4 linked regions of the Homo sapiens genome follow. The protein of the gene in region 4 purifies or fractionates together with the protein of the main gene of each other region. This does not show direct contact. Each region holds a gene or a part of one and is shown on either strand. Other genes may lie near its edges.

Region 1 (5,489 bases), on a different chromosome or scaffold from region 4:
TCTGCCTTGGCCTCCCAAAGTGCTGGGATTACAGGCGTGAGCCACTGCCCCTGGCCTTTTTTTTTTTTTTTTTTTTTTTTTCATTTTTAAAGAGACAGGACACTATTATAACACTAAAGGTCGATAGATTTTTTTTTTAATGTTGAAGTTTGTGTTAAGAAAAATTTAGAAAACACAAAAGGAAAGCAAAGCTACTTTGTAAGCTTATACAAAAGCATAATCCAAAGTAGTTCTCAAAAGTATGTGAATATATATCATGTTAATGCCACTTATGGAAATAATTTTATATTTTGTCATAAACAGGTTAAGATTTTTGCCATCAATATAAAAGGTCAGGAGTAAAATGAAGAGCGGCAAGAGTGTGCCAGACTTCCAGGAAGAAGGCTGAGGGAGTAACAACTCCTAGGAAGAAACTCACTTCTATTCACTGCCAACATCTGAGAGTTTGTAGTATTCCCTGCAACACTGTTAGGGAGTTAGAACATTTATAGTGGGTGCTAGTCTTAGCTTCATTGTACTTATCAGGAAAAAAAAAAGGCACAGAGGATAGTCAACTTACCCAAGTTGAGAGAGCTAATAGATTAAACCCGTAGAGTTACCAGTAGAACTGGTAGATTAAAATGCCACAGAAACCCAAGCCATCAAAATCTAACTTCTGATTACAGCACACGGTTACACTAAATCTTACCTTCAATTATTACCAGCTGTATGTCTAGAGGGTATTTTTATATCAACCATAAAATACAGATTTGATCATGTCAGTCCTATGTGAATCAATCGATCTTTACAGTCTTCCTCAACACTCTGGCACGGCAATATAGCCATTCAAGTACCCTGTGCCACGTATTTTCACACTTTCACACACATACTGCTCCCTTACCTAAAACATCCTTCTTCCCATTCTTTCTAGTAAGTTCTTAGGCATCCATCAAAGCCCACATAAAATATCCTCTTTTACCTCTGCCACTATTGAAGGCACTTGGTAGCTGCCTTCCCATACATATGACATTATTATGACTATCTCTGTAAGTTTTTGTCTCTGCCGAAACCTACTCTAACACTTTACTGTGTGATGCTTAAAGATAAGGTGCGATGTGCAACTGAAGCCATAACCATGAACGTGAACATTTTGTGCTGTGACTTTAAATCCATTAGAATGTCTTCAACGCAAATGAATTTGTACCCATGCATGTTATATGGCATCATGCAATGGCCCTTTGGAAATAGTGGTTTACTAAGTTATATAGATGTAAGTGTTGAAACTTATATATCAAATTCATTACATAACATTATGAAAAAAAGCTATTGCGCTCACAGTGGTATTACAAGTTTCTCAATCTAATTTTTATTTGAAACCCTGAATTTTATCACTGACAAAAAATATAGTCAGTTGTTTTCTTTGGTTCATTTGAGAGAATTCCTGCCAGTAGCTAGACCCAAATAACCAGTTTGTCAATGAGTCACTCTTTTTTTTTTTTGCATTCCAATCTTGGGTTTATTCAACACAATTCTTCCACTCTACACAACAAAGTACAAACACAATGTCATCTAAAATGCTACAAAGGTATAAAACTCAAAGAGAAATTTTATAGTACTGACTGTACAATAAGAAAAAAAAAGAAAAGCAATGTACATGTTGCCAAGATAACCTGAAAGACCACCATGAAGGACAGGCACAACCATGGCTGCGGGATGACCCCACAGAGCTGGCTCTCAACTCACTCGCCAATTTCAGAGTAGGGTGGTGGGGTGGTGTGTGTGCATAGGTGCACGGACAGACAGAACCATGCACAGCAACTACCATGGGTGAGAGGATCTTTGGGGGTGTGTGACCCTTGAAGTCGGAAGAGGCCTCGAGAGGCCGGGCCTAACAGGGTTGGCAGCTGCACTAAACCCTGGGGCAGCTCCCTTTCCAAAAGGACACTGCCCAGCGACAGCAAGGGCACGGCCTGGCCACCATCCCAGGTCATCAGGGAAGGGAAAAGTGTGCTCCCAGGTAGGCAGGGTCAAAGCACCCCCAAGAGTCTTACTTGTCCCTGGTGGCTCTGCCACTGAACTGACTCTTAGAAACTGGAAATGGGTGAGCTTTCTAGCCAGAAAACCAGAGGGAATCTTGACAGGCACACAGTCAATGAGTCACTCTTTCTAAAAGTGGGGAAAAGTTCATCTCAAAATTCAATCATACAAGGGCTTTTTTTTCCCTTGAGACAAACCACAGTACTTCAGTATGAGAAATGCTTTCTATGTATTTCCTATTTCATCACAGAATGTTAAAGAGATGAACTCAATGGTAGACATCTAATACATGTATACTCCAACACTGACATTTTTCAGGCACAGGGTCTTGCTATGTCGTTTAGGATGAACTTGAACTCCTGGGCTCGAGCAATGCTCCCACCTCAACATCCCGAGTAGCCACCATGCCTGGCTCCATCACAAACATTTTTAAATACATTTGCATGTTACTGCTGTGAATAATGCAATGACTGCTGCTACCCTGGTGGCACTATCTTGATTCCTGCCAAGGTGACAACAGTATTATCCACTATTTACTTTGTGCCATTGGTGCAAAAATAACATTTTATTATCACAAATAGTTTTGACCTTAAGGGTCCCTGACCCAAGGTCAAAACTGTTTACCCCAGTTATTTTAGGAAAATAAATAAGGCAGAAGGAAAAAAAAAATCATTCCTTTGTTGTTCAAAGTTATTTAAGAATTATGTTTACTTCCATATGCATTAGACAGTATGAAATGGAATCATTCTACACTATTGTTATTTGCCCACTTCATAACAAATTCAACAAATCAATACCAAAGTATTATAGTATATGGATAGTTTATATTTACCTAATCTTCCCTATTGCTGGATATGTTGCCAATTTTTCATTTGATAAACAATCTGTAATACACATATTTCTGTACCTGTCCAAAATCCCTTTAATAAACAGCTAGAAGTGAAATTGCTAACTTAAGGGTATAAATGTGTACTTCACATAGTACCTGACAATGTCACCTATTAAGAAATCTTAGAATATGCTTTCTAAGTTAACATTTTTCAAATGTTAACATTAAACATTTTTCAAACTGCTTTCTACAAAAGTTTTACCAATTAACACATCAGTAAGGGTTCTTATACCCTAACCATCATTGGTTATTACCATTCTTTAACCTTTAAAAAAAATCTTTGCTGGTTAAATTGGCATTTCTTTAGTTACTATTAAATCTTGCAGACACAAGATTTAATAATAACTAAAGATAAAAATGTGTTGATCAAAGGTATGCCTTGAAAGACCTTATTCAGTCTGCCATAAAAATAAATTTTAAAATATATAAAGAAATTAAGTGTTCTGGTTAGCTGATTTAAGGAGGTAGTACCTAAAAAACTAAAACCGTTATAATACTTTAAAAGTACTAAAATAGTTATATCTCAAGTAATTTTTTACCCCTGTTTGAGATAAATTATTGGAGGTAGTTCCTCAAATACTCACTTGCTGATCTTCACCTAAGTTATAAATATCACCCATGCATTTTTTTTTTCTTTTTCATTGTCTATGTTCTCCAATTAGCTTAAAAAAAAAAAAAGATACCAGAAGAGTCTTGGGTTATGTTACATGACCACTATTATGTTATCTTTTTTTAAAAAAAAAAAAAAACATGACTAATAACACAAATGAAAAGTTAGGCTTGTTTTTCGAAAAAGAGACAGTCTCACTATGTTGCCCAGCCTGAAAAAATTAGGTGTTTTTACATGCCAAGGTATTTATAGAATTAATATTTATGGAGCATCTAGTATGGGGCAGATACTCTGCCCTCGTGGAACTTAACATGCTAGTGCAAGAGACAGACAATAAGCAAGAAAACAACAAGAGTTTCTAATAAAGATGGCACCAATTTAAATTGAATGATAAATCCAAAGAGTTTAAAAGAAGTTATAAATTACAAATACCAAGTAACATTTTATAGGAAACTGAGAGGTATTAGAAAAGAAAGAACATTTTTGGACATCTACAATGTAGCTGCCTTGTAGATACACCAGTATGTACGTAGCATAGTCTAGTGGTTGTAGTAGGGTGATTTAGTTTGAATTCACTTTACTGCAAATTTGTATGATCAAATCACAGGGAACAACAGCCCTTTAAAGAGACAGTACTAAAAGAGGTCAAAGAAAAGATAATCTACTTGTATTTGAAGTGATAAAGTTTGCTTTCTTCATTACAATGCAAACTACACAGCTGCTGACAAATAAAATGGCTTCAAGTCATGTCTGTGGCTGATATAGCACAGACTGGCTCACTCACCTCTATTCCAACCCCTTCCCCATGAAAGTTCACTGCATTTCCCATACTACTCTTTAGCTCAGGCTCCACATGGGACCTATCTTCTTCCAAGCAGCTGCAATACTTTGAAATCTCAGAGGCAGAAGAGATACCACATGGAGGCTGTGCTTCCACGATCTCCATCAATGAGCACAGCTGTAGAGGCATCTGATGGTTCTGCAGCAGCTGTAGCTGAGATCCCAGCACCTGGTTCTTAGCTTCACGGGGGCTGAGAGGCAAAGAGTAGGGCATCCATTTACCTGGCCCAGATTATACCAAAGATAATGTGGTCCTAGAGCCACTCACTGTGGCAGCAGTTCTCGAATTCCCAGCTCCCTGATGGTGGCAGAGACAAAATCCACTGTGAGCCACACAACTGTCATTCCTGGAAGCTCAGCCTGCTCCCTCAACCCTTCCAAGGATATAATGACCACCTCTTTTTACTTTATTAAGCCTTTCTGTTTGAACCATACATAAGAAATAAACTCTTAACAGGTGTTTAAAATCAGATGTCTAACAAAACTGTTGATGTTGCCATGGAACACCTGAGGTCAAGTATTATTTTCGTTAAGTAAAATAGTTACATAAGAGGTGTATTTTTTTGGTGAAGAGGCACAAAATAACAGTATAGATAAGACTACCTGCAAAAGTCATGGAAATTATCTCTAGAAATCTACAATTATGGGCTTGTCTCAAATCCGCTTTGTTTTTTTTTTTGGAGATAGAGTCTCACTCTGTCACTCAGGCTGCAATGCAGTGGCGCAATCTCGGCTCACTGCAACCTCCGCCTCCTGTGTTCAAGCAATTCTCCTGACTCAGCCTCCTGAGTAGCTGGGATTACAGGTGTGTGCCACCATGCCTCCAGCTAATTTTTGTATTTTTAGTAGAGATGGGGTATACCCATGTTGTCCAGGCTGGTCTCGAACCCCTGACCTAAGCGATCTGCCCACCTCGGCCTCCCAAAGTGCTGGAATTACAGGTGTAAGCCACTGTGCCCAGCCCCTCAAACCCCCTTTGTAATGGACTAATGTAGTATAAACATTGTAAACAAATATAAATTAAAATATTCTTACTTGACTGCAGCAAATACATTATCTCCATTTGGAACAATTATACAATTTTTCTTTGCTTCATTTATACCAACATATACAGGAAATTCATCAGGAGAATCC
Region 2 (5,489 bases), on a different chromosome or scaffold from region 4:
GCGGGCATGGGAGAGTGACATGGGACCTCCCAATCCGCCATCGCACCCTGCTCGGGATCCACGAGCCCTTGTTCTTTGGGGACACCACACATACCCCAACTGGAGGGCAAAAGGTCACAGACCTTAGCCCAGGATTCAGGGGTACCCCACATGCCAAGACTTCACCTTCATAGAGGCGATCCTCGAATTTCTTTGGCTGTCAAGAATCCCAGGAAAGACGTTCAGAACGCAGGTCCTCAGCCCTATCCTTGACACAAAATGTCCTCCAAAGGAGGCTGATCCTTTGAGAACAGACAAGCCTGGCTCTGGCACTGGCCCACAGTCCTGCCCTCTTAGCCCGATCTAAGGCTGCCCAGCCCTTCAGGACATCCCATCAGCAAGGCCCTTGCAGGACATGGGCCACCTCCCCACTCATCCTTCCCTGACCCTCCCTGAGGTGGTCGCATGTTCTTCCAGCTCCAGGTTGTCCTCAAAGCCCTGGCCCAGCTCACAACCTCACCAGCTTCATCTCCTGCCCCTCAAAGACCTCAAGCCCCATGAAAGCAACGATGGGAACTAGCTGATGGCTGTAGCGTAACTGGCTGATGGCTGTCAAGTAACTTCTAGAATGAATGCTAGACCTTGACCCTGAATCCCTGCATTCTAAACTCTGTCCCCGGCCAATTCCAACTCCAGACTCCCACCATATTAACCTTCTCCCTTTACTCCACTCCTGCTGGGCTCGGGGTGAAACCAGAACAGACCCACCGGGACAGCCCAGGCAGCACCCAGAGACAGGCGGGTCCAGGCCCCTGTCCAGGGAAACAGGCTGGCTCCACGGAGCACCTCGACTCTGTCAACCCCAAGAAATGAGGGGGTCAGCAGGCCAAGTGGTTAAATAATTAATAAGATTACCAACAGCGTGTTAATTACAAAGAACAGTGAGGAGCTAGAGGTGGTGAATTTTCCAAACAGGGAACCAGGATCCACAGCCCCAAGGCCCAGGGGTCCGGCCACCCAGGCGGGGCAGCTCCGTAATAAATAATGGAGTTGGGGGCAGGGGGTCAGGGCTGCTCCTGCTTCTTCTTGACTGAAATCCGCTTCTTTCTCGCTGCCAGCATCTCATAGAAGGGGTCCACACTCACAGCCGCCCTGCAGAAGGGGAGGGGTCCCAGGATGAGGGCCAAGGAGTCCAGGCCTCCAGCCCCTCCTCCCTCATACCCAGGAGGAGTCTCAGACCCCCGGCCCCTCCTCCCTCAGACCCAGGAGTCCAGGCCCCCGGCCCCTCCTCCCTCAGACCCAGCAGTCCAGGCCCCCGGCCCCTCCTCCCTCAGACCCAGGAGTCCAGGCCCCCGGCCCCTCCTCCCTCACACCCAGGAGTCCAGGCCCCCGGCCCCTCCTCCGTCAGACCCAGGAGTCCAGGCCCCCGGCCCCTCCTCCGTCAGACCCAGGGGTCCAGGCCCCCGGCCCCTCCTCCGTCAGACCCAGGTGTCCAGGCCCCTGCCCCTCCTCCGTCAGACCCAGGAGTCCAGGCCCCAGCCCCTCCTCCGTCAGACCCAGGCGTCCAGGCCCCAGCCCCTCCTCCATCAGACCCAGGCATCCAGGCCCCTGCCCCTCCTCCATCAGACCCAGGAGTCCAGGCCCCAGCCCCTCCTCCATCAGGCCCAGGAGTCCAGGCTCACTGGATGGACTTGATCCACTCGTCCTTCTCCTCCTGCGTGGGGGCCGAGATCCGGTACACCATGTGGTTTCCCTCCACCACTCGGCCGTCCGCCTCAGTTTTGCAGGCTTTGATGAGCTGCCCCTTGTTGTTGGGGATGTAAAGTTCAAAGCAGTTCTGGGGACGAGAGAGGAAGGGCGCAGGTAAGAACCAGCCCTGGGCAGAGGAGGCCCCGCCCTGGCAGGAAGGTGTACAGAGAGGGTCTTACCGGTTTCCGGGGGTCGTCCACCTCTCGGATGCTCAGATTCTCCAGGGGGATGATTCCTCGGGGCTCCTTGTCCTGAAGAAGCAAGGTGGACAGAACTCAGACTTCCAAGTCCTCACCCCACCCCACCTCCCTCAGCCCCAGGAGTCCAGGCTCCCAGCCACTCCGCCCAGGACCCCAGAGCCCGGGTCGGGTCACGCTCACCGTGGTGTACTCAAAGTAGTAGAGGCAGTTGTCTGTGAGGATAAACCAGCGCCGCTTCCACGTCTTCACCCGGCCCCCTGAAAGGGAAGGGGTGGGAGGGGGCCTGGGCTCAACAGGGGGACAGGGCCTCTGGGAGATGGGAGGGGCGTGAGAAGCAGAGCAAGAGCGGTAGAGGTGGGGCTCCTGGGGCCTAGACAAAGCCGCTGCGTTGGGGGAGACAGACAAGCAGGGCCAGGCATGTTGGGGCTCCAGGAATCGTCCACCCCCAGCTTGGGGCTCCACATTTTCTGAGTCTGTCAGTCCCAGCCCAGGAGCCTGAGCCCCCAGCCCCCTCCTCCTGTGGGCAGGAGGCCAGGGCGCCAGGGCGCCAGGGCAGCCCCCTCCCCTCGTCTAGTGATGGGAGACAAAGACAGGTCGTGTACCTACCTCCTGGGGCAGACAGCGAGAAAGCAGGCAGGACCAGGTGCAGGAGAAGGGAAGGCGGGAGAATGGAGCACCCCCAAGAGCCGCAGGCGACAGAAACAGGGTGGGCACAGGGAGGGGTGCGCAGGGGCAGGACAGAGAGGCAAACACAGGAGAGAGGGAAAGACGCAGAGAGGAGGGGAGGGAGAGAGAGGGAAGAAAACCAGTTACATCCACGAGGGTGGGGATGGCCGGGGCTCCTCCCTCCCAGAGAGGCCAAGGGCCATGAGCCCCGGGTGGCAGCCTTGAAAACCCCTTGCTTCGGTACAGGGCCCCAGCCTACCCCCTAGGGTCTGTCCTAGGCCAGGAGCATCCTCCCTTGACATGGTAAAAGTGCCTCTGCCCTGGAGGAGGCCCCCACAGGACAGAAGGCAAAACCCCCAGCCCTTGGTCTGAGGTGGGTGTGAGGGCCCATCTCAGCTCCTGCACAAACTGGCTGTGTGACCTCAGGGCACTCTCTTGGACTCTCTGGACTCCAGCCTGGAGACTCACTCGGGCCTACACCTTCCTGTGGCAAAATGACCTGCTGCTGGCTTCCTTGTGGGCCCAGGGTTAAACAATGACAGTAAGAATGGCTTTTATTAGGCATGGAGTAGCAACCACCATCACCAATCTCCACTCCTGTATTTCCATCTTTTAAGGAAGGGGTCCCTCTAACTGGCACAAAGGGAACAGAGGCCCTTTGGTCAGAGATGTCCCTGGGGCTGGGCAGCCTTAGGTGGGGCTCAGAACCAAACTGAGGCGTGAGCCTCTGGGAAATGGGAAAGTTACTGCTCACAGGAGCAGTTTTTGTTTTGTTTTGTTTTTTTGAGACTGTCTCGCTCTGTCGTCCAGGCTGGATTTGCAATGGTGTGATCTCGGCTCACTGCAAGCTCCACCTCCTGGGTTCAAGCAATTCTTGTGCCTCAGCCTCCCAAGTAGCTGGGATTACAGGTGCCTGCCACCACGCCCGGCTAATTTTTGTATTTTTAGTAGAGACGGGGTTTCACCATGTTGGCCAGGCTGGTCTCAAACTCCTGACCTCAAGTGATCTGCCTGCCTCAGCCTCCCAAAGTGCTGGGATTACAGGCCTGAGCCACCGTGCCTGGCCTGACAGCAGTTTTGAGGGAAGCAGTTCCTCGTGATGCTGGCGCCTTCCTGCTTCTCTTTCTGGCCCGCTCACTGCCAGGGGCACCTCGAGGACTCTCAATTTCCCCCAGCAGTCTGCCTCCCTTGGATCGAATGCAGGGATCTGGACTGGGGTGTTGGCTGGACAGTGATTTGCATGTTTTATTTTATAGAGACGGGGTCTCGCTCTGTTGCCCAGGCTGGACTGCAGTGGCGCAACCATGACTCACTGAAGCCTCGACCACTTGAGCTCAAACAATCCTCCCACATCACCATGCCTGGCTAATTTTTTTATTTTTTGTAGAGATGGGGGGTATCATTATATTGCCCAGGTTGGTCTCAAACTCCTGACCTCTAACAATCCTCCTGCCTTGTCCTCCCAAAGTGCTGAAATTACAGGGGTGGGCCCCTGTGCCCTGCCTGACTTGTGTATTTTACATTTACCAGGAAACCCTGGCATCTGTTGAGGTGGTGATGCCCTGGTTTAAGAGCACAGTTCCACATGGGGAGGCCCCCAAGACTCAGAGGCCAAAGCTGCCCTGTCCAACCTCCTTCCAAGAAGCCTGACCTTGACTCCCTTCACTGAGCTGAAAGCTTCCTGTGGGCTCTCCTGCTGCCGCGGGAAGCCTCCACTGCTGTGCTGGACTGTAACTGCCCAGATGTGTCTCTCTGGAGCAGCTGTGCACCGTGTCTCCATTATAAACCACATCTAACACGCAGGTGGCACCTACTGTTACCAGGCACGGCTCCAGGCCAGTAGCTCTCAACCTTGACTATGCATTGGGAGCACCCGAGGAGCTTAAACGATGACTGATGGCCCTTCTGCTCCTGAGAGCCTGACTTCAGGAGTCTATGGCCCAGCCACCGGAGTTTTCGAGTTGCCCAGGCAAATCTCATGTACAGCCAGGGCTGAGAACCACTCTAGTCCTTGTGCTAACCCCTCATCATGCTACGATCCTGTCTGATCCATGCTAACCGACCTTGAATGTGCCAGTGCCACGTGTTATGACGAAGACTCCCCCCTCCATCTCTGCTGGGTTTCCCGACTCATCTGCACCAGCCCTGGCTATTCCCTCCACAGCTGGAAGCCAGAATCTGGGACAGGTTTCCTGGCCTGTTTGGCTCTTTTCTGCCTGTGGGTGGTGTTTCGGGAAGGATGGCACCTGGATCAGCCAAGTGCTCTGGGCCTGATGCCTCGGAGTGCGGGGTCAGTCCTGCCTGGAACCCTGGGAGTTCTTGCCAAGGGGAATAGATTCCAGGGGTTTGGCTCCCTCGGGCTGGGTTAACGCAGTGGAAAGAAGCCTGAGTGAACTCTTCTCCCACGAAAGGACAATGTCAGCTGCCTCTCACTGCCTCCTCAGCCCAGCTCAGGGCCTGGCACAGAAGGGCTCCATCAACATTTGTGGGTCAAGAGAAGGGGTTGGGAAGTACTTACTACAGGCCAGGCCCAGCACACAGGCCTGATTTTATTTTCAGCCCCATTTTTTGGGTGTGGAAAACTGAGGTTCAGAGAGGTCGAATCATTTGCCTCAGTTCAGGCAGCAGGTGTGTGCGGAAGCTGAGTCCAGGGCCCAGGCCCACAAATGTCCTCCTGCGGAGGGACCAGCGGGGTCGGGAGGGCACGTACCCAGCTTCAGGAGCCAGCCCTCCCGGTCCGGGTTGAAGAAGGTGTGGGTCAGGTCATTCCCGTCATCCTCAGGAATCTTGAAGGGCTCATTTCGGATGCTGTCGTACAGGTTCTGAGGAGTAAAGGCTGCATTAGCCATTCGAGCCCCCTGGGGCCCCCCAGGGTTACTCAGGGTGGGGGGCAGC
Region 3 (6,116 bases), on a different chromosome or scaffold from region 4:
GGGCATAGGGACCCAGTGGCTCCAGCTCAGCTGAGGATGACATTTCCAGGCCACAGCTCTGGCCCAACCTGCTGGGGCCTGGGCCTGGCCTCAAGCTGCCACCATCCACCCCCGGCCCCAAGCTGGCTCTCAGCTCCCTGCTCCCAGCCAGACAGGATTACTTGATCAACCCTTCCTGTATTGAGTTCAGGGGACATTTATATATTGGAGACAATCTACCTCCAATCCTTCAGTCCCCAGTTTGAAAGGAACTGGGTCTCTAAATGTCATTGCTTGTTACAGAGGGGTAGTGTGACACCAACCTCTACAATGCCAGGTAGTACAGCCATCCCTGGCTCATGTGGATGGGATGAGATTGTCCCACCCAGACCCCCACTACACAGACACAAAGTCTGAGAGGTCAGACACCCAGCAGCCTGGTGTGGGGCTGTGACTCTATGTCCATGGTCCACACTCCAGTCTCACCCTGAGCCCCGGCTCCTTGAGTGTGACCAAGCTCTTGATCACATCGTGCTGGTCACAGGACACGAGCCAGCACATGGGGATGGCTCCACACAGTCCCTCCTCTCAATGCTGGACACTGGTCTGGAGGCTGTGACAATGCTCCTGAGACGGAGGACAGCAAGAGAGATGGGGATTGGTGCTTCGGGGGTCAGCCCAGCGGCAGCTGCCTCAGGCCCCGGGAGCCAGGGCTCAAGGGGTGCAGAGCCTCTAACCCAACTGGGGACCATAGCCATGTTCCACCCACAGTGCTCAGCTACCCTTGCTGCTCATGCCCCTGGGTGCCTGGGTCTCCATCTTCACTCCCCAACAGGCCGACGCATCTTCACTGACCCCAGCCTCTTCTTCCAGGAGGGCTCCTTCTCTGGTTTGCTGAGAGTGCACTCAGGTCCTCCTCACTCCCTGGCAGTTCCCCGGTCTGGTTTTTAATTCCTTCAGACTCTTTGCTTCTGCCCAGAGAGCTCCCTAATCTCCAGGCTTGCTCACTGTGTGGAGCACCAGATCCATGAATCCACCTGCTCTGGGACAGCTTCACCTGGAGTTCCCATAGTCCCCTCATGTTCAGCACGACCCGGGTGGAACCCAGCATCTCACCCCAGATCTGTGACCCAGCAGTCCCCCAAGTCAGAGCTCCCCTCTGAGACTACCCCATCTGCTCATTCCCCCTCTGAAACCCTGTCCAAGGCAGCCCCTCTACACACCAAGGCCCACGGCCCAGCTCAGACCTTTCCTTTCTCCTTGGACCATCACAATCAAGTTACCCACCTCCAGCCACCCTCCACCTTCCATCCACCCCGAAGAGGGCTTGCCAGACACAAAGAAGACCCTCATCCTGAGCTTCATCCACCAACTCCTAACCTAGTGGACTAGCTTGGTGCCAGTGAACAATGGCTAATCTCCATTGACAAAAATCACGACTGGAGAGAATTCCCTCTCTCTCTCTCTCTCTCTCTCTCTCTTTGTGTGTACACACACATCTACATGTATATGTGAACCTGACATTTTTTTTTTTAATTTGGACAGCTGCTGCTATGAGCAGACAAATAGCAAATGCATGTTCAAATAAAACCTCAGAAACAACCGATGACACAGTTGATGAGGCACGTGTGAGCTCACAGTGGTGATTTTAGACCATGGTCACGTAGAGTGTCATGTTCATAAGACAGACTTAAGTGTATCCACATTTCCAGACATTTCACACGGAGCACTGGGACACTCCCGGGTTCTGCTACCATGACATGTTTAAGAACTTCTTACAGGCCGGGCAAAGCCCAACTCCTCTGCCCAGCACACTAGGGGCATTCGCCACTGCCCACTCCACTCGCATACCTCGAGGCTGCACTCACCAGTGAGTACTTTCAGCCTTTCTGAGGCTTCCTGCACAGCCCCCACCCCACCCTCATCTGCACCAGTAGCAGCAAGCCCCAGGCCCCCAGCACAAAGCCTTGCTGAGATACCCACTGAGAAGGGGCTAACTACTGTGTTTGGAGCAAAACATCTCTGGCTGCCCAAACTTGGTCTGGGGCCATCTCCCACCCTGGATGGGACCTCCAGGGGGAAGGCCCAATCTGATACCCTCCTCCAGGCCCCCTAGGGTCCAGCCCAGCCCACAGCGGGAAATCTGAGAGCCCCAGGGATTGCACCAAGGAGGGAGCAGGTGCAGGCTACACAGCCCCAGATCCTGGGAACCCAACCCGAGAGCACATGCCTGATCAGGATGGAAAATCCCACCCAAGGGCCACTGCACACACCATGGACACATTCTAACTGCTCTGGGTGGCCCATGCGCAAGGTAGTGACTGGTCCACGTCGGCCTCCGCCCTATCCCCACGTGGTGTGGGCCTCTGGCTAGTCACTGACCCGAGGAATCTAGACACGGCTCAAGGCGGGTTTCCACCTCTCTCCCTTCACGGTAAGGGATTTACCCCCTGCGATGGAGAGTTCCCAAAAGCCGCTGCTGATCGCGTCCCCCTCGACCCCCCTCCCCACCCATCCAGGGGCCTGAGTTCTCAATCTGAGTTAATCAATAACCAGAGCCGTCAGGCCTCAGTGAAGCGGCAACGCAGGGGAGCGTGAATGGAGGGTGGGGGTCAGGCAGGGGTGTCGACCATTCCAACATGCCCCGCGTGGCTCCAGGCAGTGCTGAACAGTCAGGGGCCGGACTTCGGCGCCCAAGCCGTTGATGTCATGGGACAGAGGAGAGAGGGAGACAGGACTCTGAGCAAACAGAGCCTGGCTCTAAAACAGGGCGGAGGACCAAGACAGGTGCAGCTGGCAGGCTCAGCGGTCCTCCCCCCGCCCTCTCCAACTCCGGAGGGGCGGCAGGACCCCCATCACCTAGTCCGAGCGGCCGGTGAAGGCCCCAACCCCGCAGACGCGAGCAGAGGCAGGCAGTCGGGGCGAAGGGGCGGCACCCGGTTCGGAGCCCCACTCCCTGGCGCCAGCGCACGCGCTCCCCCGGGCTCACCTGGCCGCGGCCGGACAGCGAGAAGGTGGCGTGGCTGGCGAAGCGTGCGCTGCCCAGGCGGGGCGCGCGGTCGGGAACCCCGGGCGCGGGCGGGGGGCTGGGCGTGCCGGGAGTGCCGGGCACCGGGGACATCCCGCTGGCCAAGCCCAGCGCCTCCACCTGGCGCGTCAGGCGCTCGAGCTGCGCCTGCAGCCGCTGGTTGTCCCGCTGCAGGTCGGCCACCGTGCGCGCCAGGGGGCCGGCCAGGCGCATCGCCTCTGCCACTCGCCGCTCCACGCCGCGCTGCAGCCCCCGCATGTCCTCGTGCAGCGCGCGCACCGCACCCTCCAGCGCCGCCTCGTAGCGGCCCAGCGCCTCGCGCACAGTGCGCGCCTCCTGGGCGTCGGGGGCCGGCTCCATGGCCCAGCAGAGCGCGCGGGTCGAGAGCGGGCCAGACGGGGGAGAAGATCCGAGCTCCGCAGCTCCGGGCCGCGACTGGCCGTCCGTGGCTGGCTTCGCTCGAGGGGCTGCCGGGGAGGCGGGCGCGGGGCGGGGCCTCGGGGGCGGAGCCGGGGACGACTCCGGGACACCCCCCTGCCCTGGAGCCCAGCGGGACGGTGCGGAGGGAGAGCTCGCCCAGCCTCTCCCCTCCCCGGCTCTTAACTGAGCCCTGCGACCCCGGAGGAGCGGCGTGCGGCCTGCGGGAGGGGCGGCGGGCCCACCCGAAGAAGGCCCTGGCCCCCCTGGACCGTAGAGAGCACACCCGGGCTGACGCGTTCGCTCGGGACTCTCACCCGCAAGGCCCAGGTTCCTCCGGGGGCGGAGACTCCCGGGCTAATGGGGACACCTACAGCTCCCACAGCTGCCGCCCCACTCCGCGGGGCCCTCCCTATGCAGCGGCCACGGCTCTCGCAGGCACACGCTCACCTGTGGGACCTTCGCCTGGAATTTCTTGTATCTGTTCTAAGACCTCAGGGAGGAGACAGGTGGTGAGGTCCCCTCCCTGACTCTGCGACTACGCGCTGTCCCCTCCCAGTCCTACTCTGTATAGCAAGATCTTCGTGCCCTTCCCACTAGTGGTCGGTAGAGGCTCCCGACCCACCAAGGGGCCTCCGTTAGGAGATCCTGGAGAGGCTAAGGGCAGACAGAGAAAGAAGGGTGTGCTGGAGCTGCATCTCCAAATCCTGGAATGGGCGGCTTTGCGACTAATCGCCCCCTCCCGCAATGAGAGTCTCAGTCACTGGCCTCTACCCGTAGGCCAGGGGTCTTACCCCTATTCCTTCTCAATGCTCTTTATGGCTGAACCCAGATAGTTCCCCCTTCCAAATGCACACCCCAAACCATCACCAGAAAAGGGAAGAAGGGAAACAGGTGTTGCTTTAGGACGATGGGATGATGGGCAAAGCTAACTCTAAGTTTTCGCTATATCATAAAGCTGATTTAAAATAAAAATGAGAACATATCCTCCTTTGTGCAAAAAACCTTTCCTAATTGGCCTTCTTTTTCCCAAGCCTGGCCTGCCTGAAAGAGGCCCAGAGGCTGGGCATGCATAGCCAGCTGACCTGCAGGAAGGAGAAGTCTGAAAGGCTTGTTCATATCATGTTCTGCTCCCAAGGTTGTTTGGAGCCCACAAACCCTCCTGGACTGGCCATCATTGCCCCAAAGGAACTGGAGCAGCCTGACAGATGCTAAATGCTGGTTCTCTCCCCCGCCCCCAGCCCCAAGGGGACAGGAAGGAACGCTGGGTTACCTAATCCAAGGAGCCTTCCAGCAATTATTTCATGAAAAAGGCAAATGCCAAAAGGTGTGCATGCTGCATATATGTGTGAGCATGTGTGTGCATTCCAGGTAGCCATCTGGACAGGGTGAGCCAAACTGCTCCCTGAATGCTTTCTCCAGGTGGAATCTTTAGTAGCAGCCTCCAGAGACGCTGCTGCTGCTCTTGCCGCAGACAGCACTCAAAGCCCCTCCAGGTCTCAGCACAAGAACCTGGAGTTCAAAAACCCTGGTCTCAGCCACAGAAGCCCAGTCCCTTCCCTTCTAAGATCCAAGGAAGGACCGTGTGGAGAAGCCTTGAGAGGGACTGGACAGGCTGGTCTCTAGGCTTCTCTCCATCCTCCGGGAGAAGGCAGGCTGGCTGGGCCATTGGTGGGAAGCCTGGCAGGGAGGAGGAGGTGACAGATCGTAGAGCCTGTGGCTGCCTGGGATCCATCCACACTCTCCAGCCTCAGGCTAGTTATCTGGTCTCTCCTGAGCCACATGGGAATCTCTAGGAGGAACTTCTCGGGGACGGGGCATGGCTGCTTCTGGGGCCGAAGGCGGGACTCTGTCAAGGGCAGAGATGGGGGCTCACTGTGGGTTCTGGGAAGGCAGATGGTACAAGACCATCCCCCTTGGCTCCTTTTTCTCAGCAGTCAGATCTCCGAGTCAGTAGCTGGAGATGCACCCAGGAGAGGAGAGAAGAGCCAGGAGCATGAGGAAGAGAGTGATTCTGGGGTGGGAAGGGGGCGGGATGGAGGGTCAGCACCACCCTCCGACCTGGCTCCATGACAGATGGACCGAGGCTGCAGCTCTGTTCCCAGGCCCAGGGGCTCCTGTGAGCCTTCCCTGCAGGCCCCTCCCCCACTCTCCTTTAGCTCCACTCCTGCCCAGTACCAGGCTGCGAGGGAGGTGAGGGCCCGTGAACCTGGCTGGACTCCCTGCACATTCACCAGCCCTGATGTCAGCAAGCAAGTGGAGGCCAACCTCCCACCAAGGCCTGGGGGCCCTGGCGCCTGCCCTTCCCACTCCAGTCTCCTGGCTCTGCCCCTACTGCTGCCCACCGTCGTCCTGCTCTGCTCTGAGTCTAGGCTGGATGCAGGATGCAGGACAAGCTTTCCCCAGCCCCCCTGCCAATGTCTCACAAAATCAAATCCACAGTTAGGGAAGTTACCATCTTTGGGCCTGAGGCGGGGAAACTGAGGCCCTAAGAGGGGCAGGGACTGGCCCAAGGCCACACAGCAAGGCATGCGGAGACAGTACTGGAACCTGGGCCCTGCCCCCACACCCAAGGTGCAGTACCCTCTTTCCTGCACGCCAGTCCCAGCTCACCTCCCAGTACAGCAGTCAGGTTCCACCAGGTCAGAGCAGCTCCTCCCTGCTCCCCGGATTGGCCGGAGGCCTTACTCCC
Region 4 (5,489 bases):
AACTATGGTGTTTTAAATCCTCAGCTCTCTGATCACCAACAAGTAGCCAAGCAGCAAGCTAAGCTGCCTAATGGCCCTGGGTATGTAGTTAGAGCAGTGGAGTCAGTTTATGCCAAGACTACTTCTCTCTTCTGTTCAAAATTTTCTCCCTGGAAGGTTATTTATTTTATTTGTAAAATCCAGGGTATTTTCCAAAGCCCCAGACAAAAGAGCCAACACATATCCAGTATCATCTGATGGAAAACTTTTTTCAGTTTGAGATGTGCCTGTGGCCCTTCAGGATTCACTGACACACTGGCATGGCCCATCAAGCCATCCACCTGTCTGGCTGTGAATCCACATACTTCCCACCAAGAAAAGCAGAAGTAAACACACATCTACAGTTCTCTGTTCTCTTTCCACTAGAAACACTATCTCCTACCTACCACTACTCCTCCCAGCCCTGCTGCTGCTCAGCAAACACTGGCAAAAGTGGGAGCACTCAGGGCAATGAAACATACCCAAAGATGTCTTCGAATGTATGAAAGTGGAAAAATACCCTGGTTGATAGGGCCATGGACATAGACCCTACAGAAGCCTCTCTGTACTCTGAGGACCTGCTCTTCTACCAGCAAGCTTGATTCTGACTTCTTAGGAGGAAAATGGGGTAGAGCCTCTGGGCAAAAATGAGAAGCATTCCTTTTTTCCCTGTGGTCTCCTCACAGACAGGAGCATCCATTTGCTGTCCCCATCTTGTCCCTATATCTTGGCAATGCCCATGAAACCAAGTCCAAACTCCTTAGCATGGCAAACAATGTTTTACGGGAAAGCAGCTTCTTAATTTTTCTTAGCTTCGATTTCATCATGTATAAAAGAGGTATTAAATAAGACTACTTCATAGGGTGGAGATAATTAAATGAGGGCCTAGACAAACTTAACAGGGTGCTGGGCACAGGATAGGTGCCCAGTAATTGTGTGTTAGCATATAGATTATGATTTGCTCCTTGCCGATTCCTCCAGCTTCCTGTGTCACCAGACCATGCCCATCTTTCCCCGCCCCAGGCAGAACTCCAGCAACATTTAATTACGGTTTTTAAAGGTACTTTGCTCTCTCTCTTCCCCCTCTGGACTTTTGCATATTAGCTTTTCTGCTTGAAATGCCTCCTGTCCTCCTTCCCTAACAATTCCCATATCCTGGCTAACATCTGTTTTTTTAGGACTCAGGTTAGGAGTCATTTCTTCTCCACCTCAAGCTGGATTAGATGTTTCCATAGCAACCAGTGCTTATCAGTATCAGTGCACTTATCTCTCTATAATTGGCTACTTATATATCTGTATCCTTTATAAGGTTTCAAGGCCCTGAAGAGCCAGAACTGTGCCCTATTCTCAGAATTATATCTCAAATGTTGGAAAAGTGCTTCACATATAGAAAACTACGGTCAACATACTCCCCCCACCCCCCCATTTTTGTGAAATGCTTACATTCTCTCTTGCATTGTTTAAAAACTGGCTGGGCATATTCCTGAGAAGCTAGAGATTCCTACCCACAACTCTGGGATAACTTACAAGGGACACAGACATCTGCACCTTTCTAGGACAGTTCCCACTCCATAACCCTACCTCAAGCTCATGCAATGGGTGGCTGGATTCCCTGAGAGAGGACAAAGAAAAGGCTGAAAGATGCTCATCAGGATTAAAAGGGACTTTGCATCCTTCCTTTGAGAGATAGGGCCTGGCAAACACCCAAGACCTGTGGAGAAGTGCTCCTAGCTGCTCACCTGGTAGATATGGTTGAGTTTGAAGTGTTTGAGGAGTAGCAGAAGCAGGGTAGAGATACTCTTTACAATAATCTCCTTGTGCCTGTTCACATCGATGCCCAGCTTCATGCTCTGGAGAACAGTGATGCTACAATGGGGAGAGAAGGTATTAGTGCAGAGAGTGGCCTTAAAGGGAGCCCTGTAGGGATCCAGGTATTTGGGTCTGATACAATATACACAAGAGAGCCAGAACTTGGGAAACTTGAACTTCTGTGCCAGGGAAACCTCCAGAGTTCCCACTTATGAGCCTATCTGAAGAAATGCTCCACTGATCTCTTTGTTTCCGTCTCTCTTTTGGCAAGCTCATCCCTTGGCAATGTTCACCCAAATACCTGGGCAGCCAGTCGCTGGCACTGGTGTCACCCTCCAGATCCAGAGTTCTGAGCTAAAAAGAGCCAAGCAGAAAGCCCTGTACGGGAAAGGGGGTACTGGTGGGCAGAGACGGGGAGATCTCTTTGGAGACAATCTCTGTAAGTGTTAACAAGGTGAGTGGGGACTAGAGAGAGCCTGCAGATAAGACAGCTAGTATCCAGCAGCTGCCCCCGTTGAAGCACTCACGGCATCTCCTCAGGTAGGACATCTGCCAGGATATTGATAGAGTCTGTCTTAGCCTTAGAGGTGGGAGCTGCAGCCAGCAGAATCTTAAGCAGAGCGATCTGAGAAGTAGAAAATAAAGAAATTTACCACTGTCAAACCCACTCAGCAAGGAAGTGATTCTTCCACACCCTAACCGCCCTATAAAAAGTGTTTTAAAGCCATTCTGTAAGTTCTTCCCTCAATGACCATATCTCCCCAGCATCCAGAAAAGCAAACAGGTGCCCAGTCCTGACAGGCCTGCCTGTGAGGCTAGGGAGAAAGCCAGAGGGAGTGCATTGGCTGTTATGCTTCAAGACTGTTCTTTCCAGGGCCTGGCATGGTGGCTGATGTCTGTAATCCCAGCACTTTTGGAGGCCGAGACAGGCAGATCACTTGAGGTTGGAAGTTCAAGATCAGCCTGGCCAACATGGTAAAACTCCATCTCTACTAAAAATACAAAAACTAGCTGGCGTGGTGGCATGTGCCTGTAATCCCAGCTATTCGGGAGGCTGAGGCAGGAGAATCACTTGAACCTGGGAGGTGGAGGTTGCAGTGGGCCAAGATCGTGCCACTGCACTCCAGCCTGGGCGACAGAGTGAGACTCCACTTCAAAAAAAAAAAAAAGACTGTTCTTTTCAAAGGGGAAGATGGAAGGAACAGAGTGGGAGGGACAGTGTGTAGAAATAAGGTGGGCGGCATAAACCCAACTTCTCCCACTCTTTTCTTTCCTCTAACCTGAACCATTGGCATCTTCCCCACTCCCAGCCTGAGGCTATCTAGGACATGACAGACCACAGCAGATCTCAGAGGGACTACAGTACTTATCTCGGAGGAGGGTCCCCAGTGTATCCTGTAGAGACCCCAACTTATTCCCCACCCTTCCCAAAGAAGGACTAGGGAGAACAGCACCATCAGAGGAGCACTGAGGAAAGCTCAGAATTTGCATGTGTCAGAGAATGCCTTGCCAAAGGGGCAAAGGCTCAGGAAACAAGCTCAAGTGTTGGACAGGTCCACTTGAAATGGTTTTTAGCTGTCTGTTCCTTGCAGCAGAGAAGGGCAGCTCTGGCCTAGCCATCTCCTTACCATATACTGCGGAAGGCTGTACAGCATTCCCTGGTAGAGGATTTCACATGGCGTCTCTGGTACCACCTCTTCCCCCTATGGCAAGAAATACATGGTTTGGCAATGCCACTTTCCAGGTGACCAAAGGCTTTTTTTTCTTGGTTGTGAGGGGTGACCTGAAAAGAGCACTAAGCTGGGAGTCAGATCTAGGTTTCTACCCTAGCTGTGTTAATGACTCACTGTGTGACCTTGGTTAAGTCACATTCCTTTTCTGAGTCCTAGTTTTCTCTTTAATAGGACCATCAGGTTGGCCTGGATGACCTTTCAGTACCTGGGATACTGGAACAGATGCTACAGAAGCACTTCCTATGGTGTGGATCTGAGGCTGAAAACTCTAGAACGTTCTGTAAGCCTGGAAGGAGAGGTAGGTGGCTCAATAGTGTGGGTTTAAAAGGAAGTTGGGTAACCTATGGACTGGAGAAACAGGAAGGAATATTAGCAAAGAAGCTTTTAAGTGGATGGAAATGATTTTCTTCCCCTCTCCATTAGCCCCTACATCACTTTCTCCTTTCTGACCAGCTCCCTCATATACAACTATCTCTGTCCTGTTGATGACATTAACTAAGCCTTTTATCAGAGTGGGGAGGCTGGGGTCTCAGGGACCCAATAAGCTGCTCAGGCCACTGTCATCTTTGACCAATGCAGTTCCCTTCCTCCTACAAGGTCCCTCTATTACAGGGCAAGGGGCCACTGCCATGAGACCCTGAGGCAGGGAAGAATAACCCGCCTCCCTCTGTCCCACACAACTAATCTGCTGCTTAAATGGACGTAAGTCCTAAATGGACATTCAACAGAGCCTGGCAATCCTGGCATGTTTGCCTTCCTGCTCTCCAAAAGGCTGATTTCATACCATCTTCTCTCTCCTCAAACCAACTCCTTTGCCCACCATCCCTAAACAGTTGCTGACCCTGCCTCACGCTTCATGGAGAAAACAGAAGCAATCAGACAGGCACACACTCATCTTCTCAACACCAAATCTACCAAGAGTCTTCTTCCTTCCTTCTTGACATGAAGGATGAACCGCCTGTGCTTCTAACAAAGGCCAGTCTCCTACTTGTGCTCAGGATCCCACACCCATTTGCTTTGTTGAATGCCTCAGTCCTGCAATTATCCCCTCTCTTGGATCACTTATTTTAGGAAACAAAAAATGCTCTAGTATCTCTCAGCTATAAAACATCCTCCCCTTGACCTCACATTTTCCTTCAGCTACCATCCACTTTCTCTCCTCTTCACAAAACTTTTATATCATCTACCTCCTTTTTTGACATTCCCTTCAATACACTCCAATTAGGCTTTCAGTCCCACTACTTCACTTAGAGTTGTTCTTATCAAGGTCACTATCTTCATGTTGCCAAATCCAATGGGCACCTTGGTTCTTACCATAATGCCACTTATTAGTAGCATTTTACCCAGCAGATCACTCCTTTTTTCTTGAAAGACTTTCTTAGCTTTTATGATGATATCATAATCTCCTGGATTTCCAGCCACTTCACTGTCTTTCATATTCTTCTGGCTCCTTTCCTGACACATCCCCCCCTCAACATACTGGTGTGCCCCAGGGCTTTGTCCTGCCTTCCATTCTCTTCTTTGTCTCTACTCCCTCCCTGGGTTATCTCAGCCAGTTCTACGGCCTTTAACACTGCCTATAAGTGTTACAAACAACTCCCGAATTTATTTCTCAAAGTCAGCCCTCTCTGTAGAATTCTAGACTTTATTTCCAATTGCCTGCAGCTCCACATGGGTATCTAATGGGCATCTAAAACTTAGTATGACCAAAACAGAACTCTTGATATTCCCCCCACATCCTGGCAAATGGTACTTATTCTTGATTCCTTTCTTTGCCTCTCTATCCACATCCAAATGCACTGCAAGTCTTGTCAGCTACATCTCCAAATCCAGGTCGGCATCATCTCTCACCTTGACTATTTCAAGGGTTTTCTAACTAATCTCCGTAGAGTGCGTCTATGCTTTTCTGGTCCAATCTTTACACAGAAG

What was found.
Region 1: the proteins of STRIP2 (region 4) and HPF1 purify together in Homo sapiens (co-immunoprecipitation; one large-scale study listed by IntAct). This does not show direct contact.
Region 2: the proteins of STRIP2 (region 4) and CYTH2 purify together in Homo sapiens (affinity purification with mass spectrometry; one large-scale study listed by BioGRID and IntAct). This does not show direct contact.
Region 3: the proteins of STRIP2 (region 4) and SMTNL2 purify together in Homo sapiens (co-immunoprecipitation; one large-scale study listed by IntAct). This does not show direct contact.

What each region holds. Positions count from the first base shown.
Region 1 is NC_000004.12:169,743,354-169,748,842, forward strand, and holds part of HPF1 (histone PARylation factor 1), read right to left. Parts: coding exon 5,391-5,489; intron 1-5,390. UniProt on the Homo sapiens protein: Cofactor for serine ADP-ribosylation that confers serine specificity on PARP1 and PARP2 and plays a key role in DNA damage response.
Region 2 is NC_000019.10:48,474,765-48,480,253, reverse strand, and holds part of CYTH2 (cytohesin-2), read right to left. Parts: intron 5,417-5,489; coding exon 5,305-5,416; intron 2,538-5,304; coding exon of another isoform or gene 2,535-2,537; intron 2,186-2,534; coding exon 2,109-2,185; intron 1,980-2,108; coding exon 1,908-1,979; intron 1,817-1,907; coding exon 1,662-1,816; intron 1,132-1,661; coding exon 1,044-1,131; 3' UTR 1-1,043. UniProt on the Homo sapiens protein: Acts as a guanine-nucleotide exchange factor (GEF). Promotes guanine-nucleotide exchange on ARF1, ARF3 and ARF6. Activates ARF factors through replacement of GDP with GTP.
Region 3 is NC_000017.11:4,581,857-4,587,972, reverse strand, and holds the start of SMTNL2 (smoothelin-like protein 2), read right to left. Parts: upstream 3,445-6,116; 5' UTR 3,368-3,444; coding exon 2,969-3,367; intron 1-2,968.
Region 4 is NC_000007.14:129,461,007-129,466,495, reverse strand, and holds part of STRIP2 (striatin-interacting protein 2), read right to left. Parts: intron 3,909-5,489; exon of another isoform or gene 3,847-3,908; coding exon of another isoform or gene 3,766-3,846; intron 3,531-3,765; coding exon 3,456-3,530; intron 2,453-3,455; coding exon 2,355-2,452; intron 1,885-2,354; coding exon 1,758-1,884; intron 1-1,757. UniProt on the Homo sapiens protein: Plays a role in the regulation of cell morphology and cytoskeletal organization. Required in the control of cell shape. Calmodulin-binding scaffolding protein which is the center of the striatin-interacting phosphatase and kinase (STRIPAK) complexes.